Linked DNA regions of Homo sapiens: regions 1, 3 and 4 are each reported to be linked to region 2. Evidence: microRNA targets listed by miRTarBase, many of them from high-throughput screens and not tested one by one. Region 2 holds a microRNA gene; each other region holds the end of a gene's coding sequence.
What was found. Region 2 holds the annotated microRNA hsa-miR-4465 (CUCAAGUAGUCUGACCAGGGGA, at 904-925, opposite strand). A microRNA usually pairs through its seed, bases 2 to 8, with sites in the 3' UTR of a target mRNA and lowers its output. Matches are read on the target gene's strand: a 7mer-m8 pairs with bases 2 to 8, a 7mer-A1 pairs with bases 2 to 7 and ends in A, and an 8mer does both.

Region 1: miRTarBase lists DCP1A as a target of hsa-miR-4465. Seed matches in the 3' UTR shown: 7mer-A1 at 587-593.
Region 3: the mRNA of RHOQ is a reported target of hsa-miR-4465. Seed matches in the 3' UTR shown: 7mer-A1 at 681-687, 7mer-m8 at 1,134-1,140 and 8mer at 2,220-2,227.
Region 4: the mRNA of GLTP is a reported target of hsa-miR-4465. Seed matches in the 3' UTR shown: 7mer-m8 at 1,349-1,355.

The regions. Positions count from the first base shown.
Region 1 is chr3:53,284,914-53,287,913 of GRCh38, forward strand. It overlaps DCP1A (decapping mRNA 1A), which reads right to left. Exons shown (of 10, transcript NM_018403.7): 10 at 1-2,747. The coding sequence ends at 2,667. The region is part of intron 1 of LOC107986087 (a long non-coding RNA gene); the gene reads left to right. Among named protein-coding and RNA genes, the nearest start is that of TKT, 30 kb to the left of the region's middle.
Region 2 is chr6:140,681,508-140,684,779 of GRCh38, reverse strand. It overlaps MIR4465 (microRNA 4465), which reads right to left and starts at 966; the gene lies at 897-966. All of the region lies in intron 4 of LOC105378027 (a long non-coding RNA gene), which reads right to left.
Region 3 is chr2:46,580,506-46,583,505 of GRCh38, forward strand. It overlaps RHOQ (ras homolog family member Q), which reads left to right. Exons shown (of 5, transcript NM_012249.4): 5 at 423-3,000. The coding sequence ends at 578. It overlaps PIGF (phosphatidylinositol glycan anchor biosynthesis class F), which reads right to left. Exons shown (of 6, transcript NM_002643.4): 6 at 432-1,086. The coding sequence ends at 973. Among named protein-coding and RNA genes, the nearest start is that of RHOQ-AS1, 1.8 kb to the left of the region's middle.
Region 4 is chr12:109,849,914-109,853,185 of GRCh38, reverse strand. GLTP (glycolipid transfer protein) reads left to right here. Exons shown (of 5, transcript NM_016433.4): 5 at 449-2,241. The coding sequence ends at 631. Among named protein-coding and RNA genes, the nearest start is that of TRPV4, 18 kb to the right of the region's middle.

The DNA.
Region 1 (3,000 bases), not on the chromosome of region 2:
ACCTCATGAATCCCAGGAGGTACACAATGAAGAAGAGCTTCTGCCTTAAAGGAACAAGGCTGTCTGGGAGGCCTGAGAGTCCATTAAAAGACACCGCATTAACTACAACAAAAAGAAGAGCAGCACCACCCACCAGTGGTGCCCCAGACACACCTCTCCTCCAAGCTCTGGGCTGCTCCTCTTGGAGTCTACACTTAGACCCTGGGGGTGGGGGTGGGCACACAAATGGACAGAGTGGTCTAAATGCAGGTCTCCTGGGGTTCTGCGAAATCTAGCCAGAAGCATCTCCATCTCGGTGTCCATTTCGATCCAACTAAGCTTCCAGTAAAGACACTGCAGCAATGTAAACATGCAACCTAAGCTAGCATGAGGTTCTAGATAGTAAGCCTGAACTAGGAATAAGGCAACTGAACTGTGACTTTCGGGCCAGGGTCATCCAGCTGCAATTATCCAGGCTTGGCCTGGCTTCTCTAGGGATTCATTCTGGCCTGAACTTCCTGGTAATCATGACATGAACTTCTGGCTTCTGAATTTTAAGTAAATACTTTGAATATATAAATTTGGGAGGTGAAACAGGTTTACCCTTTTCAAGTCTCCATGACTTGGGCACTTAAGTTTACTTTCACACTAAGGAAGCCTTATCATAGATGCTCTTTACTGTCTATCATATCCATTCCTAGCATTAAAGGTGAAAATTAGTATGATCACAGACTCTCTTTAGGATATTCTCTCTTAACTCTCTCATAATATTACATACTCAAAAGCATAATTTCGATTCAAGAATCCCTTGATTCGTCTGTTCACCGAAGCCCACTGAGACTACACTTGAGGTGCAATCACACCTACTGGTGCGTCCACTTTATGGAAGTCACGTGGCTCCCTGGACACCATCTCCCGGTGTCAGCAACACTCTGTATCCCACTATAGCTTTCTCGTTCCCAGATGATGCATAAGGAATTCATTTTTGGTTGCTTAATTTACATACTATCTGTGAAAACAAACTATTCACAATTGAGCATGAAAACTTATAAGCTTCCCTGAATTCTGCACAATTCACACATAATTAGGTAGACAGCAATAGAAGACACTAAAATGAGAAGCAGAAACCCTGTCCAGGAAGCATGTTTAGATCAACAAAAGCCAATCATTCTTTATGCTAAAAACTAAGACCAAACTAAAACAAGTATGTAATTCACAAGTAATTTTCTAAAATTTTAGCTAGAAAAAAATAATCTATGGACTTATGATTGAGTTACCATTAAAGCTTAAATGATTGTTCCTAAGGAACCATCATATCTGTCAGCATTATTCACAGCTAATCCTTATGCTAGCTGGTTGAGCCAATTGGGTTTTTACCCCATCATTAAATAGTGCTCAGAAAAGTAAGCAGTGCATCTTAATTGGTTAAATACTACAAAATGACCTGTATCATAGAAACGAAGACACTTTCATTCAAAGAATATCTTAAAATTACTATTGCTGAAATAAATCAAAATCTACATTAAAATATTACTAAACACCATTACATGCCATAAAAGAATAAATAGAAATCATGGCAGATCAATAGCAGCATAACAAAGCTTCTTTACATATTTTCACACTTTGGGCCGGGAAAGTACTCACAGCCTAGGAATACATTGGTAGAGTTCGGAATCACATTTTCTTTTAACTCCATAATTCTACAACAAAATAAGGGCAGTGTGAATAACAGCTCCCTTTTCTGCATAGCTTTAAAACTATTCTCAGTACACTCAAGGAAAGGAACCAGAATGGCTTTGTCAGATTGGTCCACTGGTCCTTTTGTCAAAGTGTTAAGGAAAACAATCAACAATGACAGAAAAGGAAAATAAGGCTGTGCTTCACACACAAACTTAGCATTTTCAGAACCAATGGAGAGTTTAACCTAAAATGAAGATTTGATAGGATGTGGGCATTCCCAGCCCCAGCCTTTCCTTCAAAGGTATGACATGCCTGTGTCCACACCACCAGAGCCTGACAGTGCCCTATTCAAATGGTAATGCTGCACTGGGGGCCTGCTGCAGGGCAGGACTGGGGCACTTAAAAACAAAATGCTATTAAGAAATTTCACAACTTTTAAGGCCCAAATGGGGCATTCATATAAAATATACTTCACTTGAGGAAATAATTCCTAATTTGCCGGCTTAAATTCTGGTCCTAAAAACTAGAAGCTACTTTGCAGAGCTGCCTTCTACTCTGTTCAAAACTTGACTTGTCAGCCCAAAGCCCGTTTCTATGGGGTAGGCTGGGGGAAGCGGTGGGGGCCGGGCTGAACTTCTGCTGTGAGGCTGGTGACTACTCCTCTGTAAGTCCTTGAAAGTGAAAGCAAGCTGAGAATCTGACTCCTTATTCCACAGCCTTGCTCCTAGCTGATGAAAACACCCACATAACTTAACACAATGATCGCTCTCTTTTTTTTTTTTTTTTTTTTTTTTTTTGTCAAAACAAGGATCTGCTGGTGATGCTTCACAGTGAAACCTCCATTATCACTGAGAATGTCACTTGGAAAACATTCTTAAGAAATGAGTCTCTTTCTCATAGGCTCAATTTCAGGATTCTCAAACTCAATGTTCTGCTCAGAAGTTTCCATGATGAAGCCTATTTGTCTCTGAGGCTGGGGCTCTGCCTTTAGACTTATTCTGCTCCAGTCATAGGTTGTGGTTGTCTTTGTTCTTGGTCAGAACCTGCAAGTAGACTTCATGAAGTGTACTGAGGAAGCTGGAATCATTCTAGAAGAGATGGTAAAGGTTAAGGATACGAATGCCACATTTACCTCATCAGATTTTACTTCCTTGGTAACAGCTTAGGAAAAAAATTGTATAAATGATTTGTATAACTGATAATCCCACCACCCAGAGACAATCATGATTAATATTTTGAGTTCATGCAGATATTTCTCCACCAGGACTGTATGCTTAAAAAAAGAGAAACAGTACTCCCAGCTAGTCTGTTTTTGTTTTTTTTTTGCCTGCCTTGGCCTCC
Region 2 (3,272 bases):
AGTAATGATGATACTAAATATATAATAAAGGACTTCATACTCCAAAATTTTTTTGCCTTTTATGAATATGATTGAATTGATTGGATCTTCAAAATAATTCCCTGATAGTTAAAATTTTGAGTTTTTTAAAGGCAAAAATAAAGGCAACGATAACTACTATAATTTAAATAAGGGTCAAAATAAGAATGACAAAAGTGAGAAAGTATTGCTTCATAGTTTTAATTTCATTGGTAATTGTATTTTTTTATAAAAATTATAATCTATGGCATATTAAATTAATGTTGTTAATTTGAATTTTAGTGATTTGGTAGGAAGCTTTAGTATTTTATTTGAAAATGAAATTTAATAGATTTCAGAGCTATAAGTAAAATAAGTTTATATCTTATTTTACATAAAAATTTTATTTTATACAATTATATCAAAACATATATAAGTTTTGTTGGTATGTTTTTAGCTGATATTATAAAAATTGATACTTAGAATTAAAGTGTACTTATCATTAATTATTTTTTAGCTGAAAATGGTCCATAGATTAAGGAAGTTGAAAAAACACTGGGAGAGTCCTCATTATGGTTGCTTTAAATGTAGACCGACATTTGCTCTTTTGTGTTTCCTGCTGTTTCTTTTTTTTTTCATAATTAGTAGCAATAAAATGCCATAAATATTTTTAACAATGTGTATGTTCATTTCAGGGTTAAAAGAGAAAAGTAGAGTAAATAATACTTCCTTCTTTTTTGCAAGAGGTTTAAGGGGACCTATTTAGTGGCACAGGTAGTATCCATAGAAGCGAAATAAGCAAGTTATATGCTATTGAAACTAAAAACAAACCAAACAAGAGATACATGCCCCACTTGTGACGGAAATATGCTTGTGGGAATGCAATCAATGAAAAGCTCTCATGTGTCCCCTGGTCAGACTACTTGAGGTTCCATAGTAAACCTCAAATAGCGTGCCAGGGGACACATGAGAGCTTGGGCTAGACCAGAGCAGGGCTGTCTAAGAAACGAACTTGACAAATTCAACTGTAACATCCTTTGTAGGCAGCACTACCAACCGTGGTACCTCCTGGACATCTCTCCAGCATAAGGAGCAAGGCAAGCCCTCTTTTCTCAAGGCTTTTATTCTCTCAGCCACGCCTTCACCCCCATTCCCTTCCCAACCCCACACACATAGAACAAAACTTAAAAGAACAAAAATTGCATCCTCTTCTAGAAATGGTAAAACTAGAGAATTTTTTCTGGATGCAGTTTGTTAAATTCAACATATTTTGCTAGATAACGATTTTACCTCTTTAATTAACACAGATAAATGATCTATTACTATTGCTTTCTTCTAGGCTTGTGCCATATGTGTAATATTAGACACTATATCTAATAACAATAAAATGTCGGAAGGGTTGCATGTTTGTCTTGCTATTAGAGATTTTGTCTAATATTACATACATATATATGTGTGTATGTAATTATATATAGAGAGAATATATATTTATATAGATAACATATATCTATAGAGATATATAGAGAACATATATCTCTATATCTATAGAGATATGTAGAGAACATATATCTCTATATCGATAGAGATATGTAGAGAACATATATCTCTATATCGATAGAGATATGTAGAGAACATATATCTCTATATCGATAGAGATATGTAGAGAACATATATCTCTATATCGATAGAGATATGTAGAGAACATATATCTCTATATCGATAGAGATATGTAGAGAACATATATCTCTATATCGATAGAGATATGTAGAGAACATATATCTCTATATCGATAGAGATATGTAGAGAACATATATCTCTATATCGATAGAGATATGTAGAGAACATATATCTCTATATCGATAGAGATATGTAGAGAACATATATCTCTATATCGATAGAGATATGTAGAGAACATATATCTCTATATCGATAGAGATATGTAGAGAACATATATCTCTATATCGATAGAGATATGTAGAGAACATATAGCTCTATATCGATAGAGATATGTAGAGAACATATAGCTCTATATCGATAGAGATATGTAGAGAACATATAGCTCTATATCGATAGAGATATGTAGAGAACATATAGCTCTATATCGATAGAGATATGTAGAGAACATATAGCTCTATATCGATAGAGATATGTAGAGAACATATAGCTCTATATCGATAGAGATATGTAGAGAACATATAGCTCTATATCGATAGAGATATGTAGAGAACATATAGCTCTATATCTATAGAGATATGTAGAGAACATATAGCTCTATATCTATAGAGATATGTAGAGAACATATAGCTCTATATCTATAGAGATATGTAGAGAACATATAGCTCTATATCTATAGAGATATGTAGAGAACATATAGCTCTATATCTATAGAGATATGTAGAGAACATATAGCTCTATATCTATAGAGATATGTAGAGAACATATAGCTCTATATCTATAGAGATATGTAGAGAACATATATCTCTATATCTATAGAGATATGTAGAGAACATATATCTCTATATCTATAGAGATATGTAGAGAACATATATCTCTATATCTATAGAGATATGTAGAGAACATATATCTCTATATCTATAGAGATATGTAGAGAACATATATCTCTATATCTATAGAGATATGTAGAGAACATATATCTCTATATCTATAGAGATATGTAGAGAACATATATCTCTATATCTATAGAGATATGTAGAGAACATATATCTCTATATCTATAGAGATATGTAGAGAACATATATCTCTATAGATATAGAGATATGTAGAGAACATATATCTCTATAGATATAGAGATATGTAGAGAACATATATCTCTATAGATATAGAGATATGTAGAGAACATATATCTCTATAGATATAGAGATATGTAGAGAACATATATCTCTATAGATATAGAGTTATGTAGAGAACATATATCTCTATAGATATAGAGATATGTAGAGAACATATATCTCTATAGATATAGAGATATGTAGAGAACATATATCTCTACAGATATAGAGAGATATATAGAGAACATATATCTCTACAGATATAGAGAGATATATAGAGAACATATATCTCTACAGATATAGAGAGATATATAGAGAACATATATCTCTACAGATATAGAGAGATATATAGAGAACATATATCTCTACAGATATAGAGAGATATATAGAGAATATATATCTCTACAGATATAGAGAGATATATAGAGAATATATATCTCTACAGATATAGAGAGATATAGAGAATATATATCTCTACAGATATAG
Region 3 (3,000 bases), not on the chromosome of region 2:
ACCATTGTCCTCAGCACTCCCCGCCTCCCTCACTCTGCTTTTTCCCCACAGCATTTGCAACCATCTGCTCTGTATTCCCTCCCCTGTGCCTCTTACCCAGCAGATGTCAGCACATGTGGACGCCACACAGCAGGGACTCTGCTCTTTCGTTCAGTTCACTGACATATCCCCAGGACCTAAACAGTGCTTGACATATAGTAGATACCCAGTAAATATGTGGTGAGTGAAATAATTTTTCATAGAAAGTCTGGAAGGACATATACTAGTATTTTAAAATCCCCTCTGGGGTTATGAACATGGATGATGAATGTATTCTTTTTGCATAGCTGTATTTTATAATTTTCTTTATAATGATGTGTTTATGTCATGCCAATTGTATAAACATGATCTTATATATTTGTGATTTTTTTTCTCCCTCCCAGATAGGAGCATGCTGCTATGTGGAATGTTCAGCTTTAACCCAGAAGGGATTGAAGACTGTTTTTGATGAGGCTATCATAGCCATTTTAACTCCAAAGAAACACACTGTAAAAAAAAGAATAGGATCAAGATGTATAAACTGTTGTTTAATTACGTGAGAAACATCTTCAGTGGCCAAGGAAACTGTCCATTTCTCTCAGAAAGCAAATGAAATGCTACAGCTATACCCAGACCTTTTATAGGTAATGAAGCAGTTCAAAACTTGAAAGAAAACAAAACCTGTCCTCAGAATTCTATAAAGTGTATTAAGAATGTTCCTTAAAGGTTTAAGAAGCAGTAAGCAGCATCTGAAGCCACAATCTATTATAAATACTTTATTTCAACTAGAAGGTACAATCTCTCAGGGGTTTCATAGTTTAAAAAGCTACAATCACATCATGTTGTAACTACGTAAAAAACAGAGCTGTAAATGGAACTGCTTGGCTTTGACCATACACATTTCTGCCCAGCCCTTACAGAATCTGCACAAAGAAATATCTCCCTTTGCTCCAGTTAATTGTTCTTGTATGTAAGTTGCTTTCTATTCCAGTATATCCAGAGTGGTGAAATAACAAGGCCAGCCACGTAGCCAAAGGTCGCTCCAAGCGTACAGGAGATGGGCCATACCTGAGGAGAGAATGTATGAGATCAAAAAAGAACAAATGTTTTATTATTACTTGAGCACAAGTGTAACCTAAATATTTCTATATTAAAGCTTAATGTGCTTTCTTAAAGAATGCCAAAAGTGTAATAAGGTCATAACTGCATTTATCATGAACACTAAAAATGTACACATTTTAGTTAATGTGCATTAAACTGTAACAAGGCTTCTGGCAATTGTAGATTTAGTTTGACGCTCCCCAAAGTGCATGAGACACATGCTAAAATTACAAATTAAAATTTTGGGTCAGACTTTGCCATAATGATAGACTCAATTTAGCTCTCTGAACTAGTTGGTAATTTTTTTTTTTTAATTCCCACTTTGGCTGTGTACATCAAATGAAATGAGAAGTGTGTATGCTGACCAAACCACAAGAAACTTTCTTTAAGTTGTGTTAAAGAGGAAAGACCTAGAATCCAAGCGTGTTACATGAAAATTGTAACAGAGCAGCTGCTTCCACCTTTCAGATATAGATGTTGGAACCACAGCAGAAGTTATAGAGCGACAACTTATATACACACCTAGAATGTAAGTTAAACAAAATACCGGCTTCCAGAGACCCCTTTTCTCCAGCCATATTACATCAGGCTAGAAGTAATTAATGTTGATTTATTTCATCTACAAGCAGTTGGTCCCTAAGTGAAAGGCTCTGCTTGAAAAAAAAAAGAAAAAAAAGTTGGAGGAAAATTTTCATGTTCTTCTGTGAAGCTTATTTGGTACACTGGAGCCATTTCTAATCTTTCTCTGGGGGGAACAGGCCACAGAACTGTGTTAGAGGTGAACCATCTTAATTACTAGTTCTATTACCTAATTCAGCTTCCTTGTTTGGTCTGCTGTGGATCTGCCTTATTGCATATGCCATGCATCAGATAATGGATGCATCAGATAATGGTGTTAGACAAAGCTTCATTGTGAACAACCTAATGCATTTTAGAGAAACAATCTCATCACATTTTTTCTAGCCTTTCCTACATTTAAACTTGCTGTTGCCCAAATTATAATTTTTTAAATGTCTTTGGTGGGCTTCTGTTAATTCACATGACTTGAGCTTATAGCTATGTCTACTGCACAGATTGGGTAATGGAACACTAAACTTTTATACTTGAAAATGACAGCCTTAAATGCTCATATCAGTCACAAATCTAGGATGTACTGTCTTGTTGTATGTGAGCTTTGTAGAGATTTTTAAAAATATAAGCATCACCTTCCCATTGAAGAGTGGAGAGAGTCTACTGGATGACTGGCCAGGAACTTTCTCTCTGAATCGGACATTTGGATGTCTTCTTTCTTCCAAGAAATGGTGGTTCACATTAAAGTATCATGGCCTTATGTATGCTCAAATGGAATCTTATGTAACTTTCTTATTTAATTTTGGTCTGCTTATTTTTAGATAAAATTGAAAGGAATTGTATAAATCAATTAACATATTAGCTGAGTTGTCCAACACATGGTATAAACGAATTACAACAGTAAACTATTACACATTTCCAACTTGCCTTTGGGGATTTATGAGGATTTTTTTTGGTGGGGGGAGGGGGCTCCAATTCATATCTCTGAAACCCTTCACACTTGGTTTACTAATTCAAAGTTAGAAGTCTAGAATTTGCCCTGCCCTAACAGAAACAGATTAGGAATTTGTCTACACAAACTGGTGTCACCTGTTTCTTGACTGGGATTTGGTTTCCTCATTATAAATATGGGAGGTAGAACAGAGATCTCCAACGTCTCTCCCATTTATCACAGTAATTTTCTTATTCACAGTAATCATTGTTGGATGTTACCTTTTCAGCTTCACATTCTCAAGATGGTAAAAATCATGTATATAGATTATCAGAACTCTAAGCAAAGATGACTGTCACATCTGAAGCTGAGGTGCCTTA
Region 4 (3,272 bases), not on the chromosome of region 2:
CAGAGGGAAGAGACTCACCCATGCTGAACACCTACTGTGTGCCTGGTGTTGTGCTGAGTGCCTACTGTATGCCTGGTGCTGTGCTGAGCACTTTGTACAAGCCCCCTAATCCTTATAAAAGCAACCCGATTAGGTGGCAGCCATTATCCCCATTTTGCAGATGAGGAAGCTGAAGCTCAGAGAGGCTAACTGACTTGCTCAAGGCTCACAGCTAGTTGATGGCCCAGACTGGCATTTGCATCTAGGCTTGTCTGTCCCGAAAGCTGATGTCCTTCCTGCTGTCGCTCAAAATACACCTCCCTTTTCCTTTCCCTTCCAACACCTCAAATAGCACAACCCCCTGTCCAGCACAGACCCAGGGAAGACCCCTCCCAGAACCCTGGCCTGCTGGCCTGGCTCCTCAGCCCCCGCTAACGCTGTGCCTACCTCCCTTCTTGCCTGTCTCAAGGCAGCACTGTACGCAGCACCCTATAAGTCTGACTTCCTGAAAGCGCTCTCCAAGGGGCAGAATGTTACGGAGGAGGAGTGCCTGGAGAAGATCCGCCTCTTCCTAGTCAACTACACGGCGACCATCGATGTCATCTACGAGATGTACACCCAGATGAACGCTGAGCTTAACTACAAGGTGTAGGCATGCCCACTGCTGGACACGTCCCCGACTCGTGGCCACATGGAGAAACAGGCAAACCAGAATCACTGTGAATCAAGTCGGTGAACTGCCCCTGGCCTGTGTCCCCCAGAGCAGCCCAGGGTCCTGCCAGAGTCTGCAGGGGACAGCCCTCGTTTTTTAAGTCTTTTTTTTTTTTTTTTTTGGTCTATTCTAAAGGACCAGTAAATAATGATCTTACTTCCAAATCTCCTTGGAATTTCACGACAGCACAGACTGACTTTATACCTTCATTTCAGCGTGGTAAAAACCGATTAACACTTCTAATGAGTCAAGTCCTAGGGTTTTTTGGTTTTGTTTTGTTGCCAACGAGGAACACAGCTCTGGGGGAATGGTGTCATCCACCTCGCTTTAAAAATAAGCACATGATGGCTGGGCACCGTGGCTCACGCCTGTAATCCCAGCACTTTGGGAGGCTGAGGCGGGTGGATCACCTGAGGTCGGGAGTTTGAGACCAGCCTGGCCAACATGGTGAAACCCCATCGCTACTAAAAATATAAAAAATTAGCTGGGCATGGTGGCGCACGCCTGTAGTTCCAGCTACTCAGGAGGCTGAGGCAGGAGAATCGCTTGAACCCGGGAGGTGGAGGTTGCAGTGAGCTGAGATCGCACCATTGCACTCCAGCCTGGGCAACAAGAGCGAAACTCTGTCTCAAAAAAAAAAAAAAGAGGTGGGTGGATTACTTGAGGTCAGGGTTTGAGATCAGCCTGACCAACATGGTGAAACCCTATCTCTACTAAAAATATAGAATTAGCCAGGCATGGTAGCGCACGCCTGTAATCCCATCTTCTTGGGAGGCTGAGGCAGGAGAATCGCTAGAAACTGGGAGGTGGAGGTTACAGTAGCCGAGATCGCGCCACTGCATTCCAGCCTGGGCAACAAAAGCGAAACTCTGTCTCAAAAAAGAAAAAAAAGAAAAAAAAGCACGTGACCTTATGAGGCTCTCGCTGTATTGTTATTTTAAGGACTATAAAGAGTTTGATTTAAAATTATGCAGGGCCCCTATGTGGGATTTTTTAAAAAGCAAACTGGTGTGTATTCTCATGTGGTTTGCACAGCCCAGCCTCACAGCACTATTGTAAACCCTGCTCTTTCTGTCTCGCTAGACAGATTTTTTTGTTTGTTTTCTTTTTTCTGGTTGTTTTTTGTTGTTGTTGTTGTTGTTTTACAGCTGAAACCAACCAGCAAGCCCTTGATGACCAAGAGGCGTTTCTTTCAAAGCTATAGGGCACAAACAATTGACCATAGATGACTCCGTTTGCATTCTTCTGCAGAATTATTTCCTTCAGGGACAGATTTTCCAACCTAAGAAACTACCTACCGTGTGTATTCTCTTGACGGGGAGAGATGAACCCTTCAGCTGCTAAGATCCAAGAAAACGCCTCACTGCCTTAACCTTAACTGTTCTTCCTGGCGCTAAAAAGAGCTGTATTTTTTAAAGTGCTGGGGCAAACAAAGCAACCCCAAAAGAGTTGATGTGTGTTTTAAAAGAAAAAACCCAATGAGGAACAATTGGAGATTTTTATGCAGAAACTAAATAATCCTTAATAAATAAATCTCTATTTTGGAATCACATCTGTGCACTGTATTGGTTCTTGATTTTTTTTTCTTTCCTGCATCAGAAATTACAACTGGGGACCCTTACAAATCCTACCAAGAATGTATTTTCTGGCGTCCATGGTTTTAAAATTTTATTTATCTATTATTTTTAAATGTTTTTGTAGAGATTGGGGTCTTGCTATGTTGCCCAGGCTGGTCTCAATCTCCTGGCCTCAAGCAATCCTCTTGCCTCAGCCTCCCAAAGGGTTGGGATTACAGGCATGAGCCACTGCACCAGGCCTGGCCTCCGTGGTCTTAAAAAACAGAACTGGTTGCTGCATGGAGAAACGGGAATTTCACATAAGAATCTTGGGTTTCGGCAGGGTGCAGTGGCTCACTTCTGTAATCCCAGCATTTTGGGAGGCCGAGGTGGGTGGATCACTTGATGTCAGGAGTTCGAGACCAGCCTGGCCAACATGGTAAAACCCCATCTCTACTAAAAATACAAAAATTAGCCAGGTGTGGTGGCGGGTGCCTGTAAACCCAGCTACTTCAGAGGCTGAGGCAGGAGAATTGCTTGGAACCAGGAGGCAGAGCTTGCAGTGAGCCAAGATCGCACCATTGCACTCCAGCCTGGCTGATAAGAGCGAGACTCCATCTCAAAAAAAAAAAAAAAAAAAAAAAAAAAAAAAAAAAATCTTGGGTTTCTGTAGCCATAAAAAAGAATGAGTTCATGTCCTTTGCAGGGACATGGATAAAGCTGGAAGCCATCATTCTCAGCAAACTAACACAGGAACAGAAAACCAAACACTGCATGTTGTCACTCATAAGTGGGAGTTGAACAACGAGAACACATGGACACAGGAAGGGGAACAACACACACTGGGGCCTGTCAGGGGTGGTGGGTAAGGGGAAGGAGAGCATTAGGACAAATACCTAATGCATACAGGGCTTAAAACCTAGATGACGGGTTGATAGGTGCAGCAAACTACCATGGCACGTGTATACCTATGTAACGTATAATTAAGAAAAGAACCTTGGGTTTCTAGCTTCTTTTGAAAAACC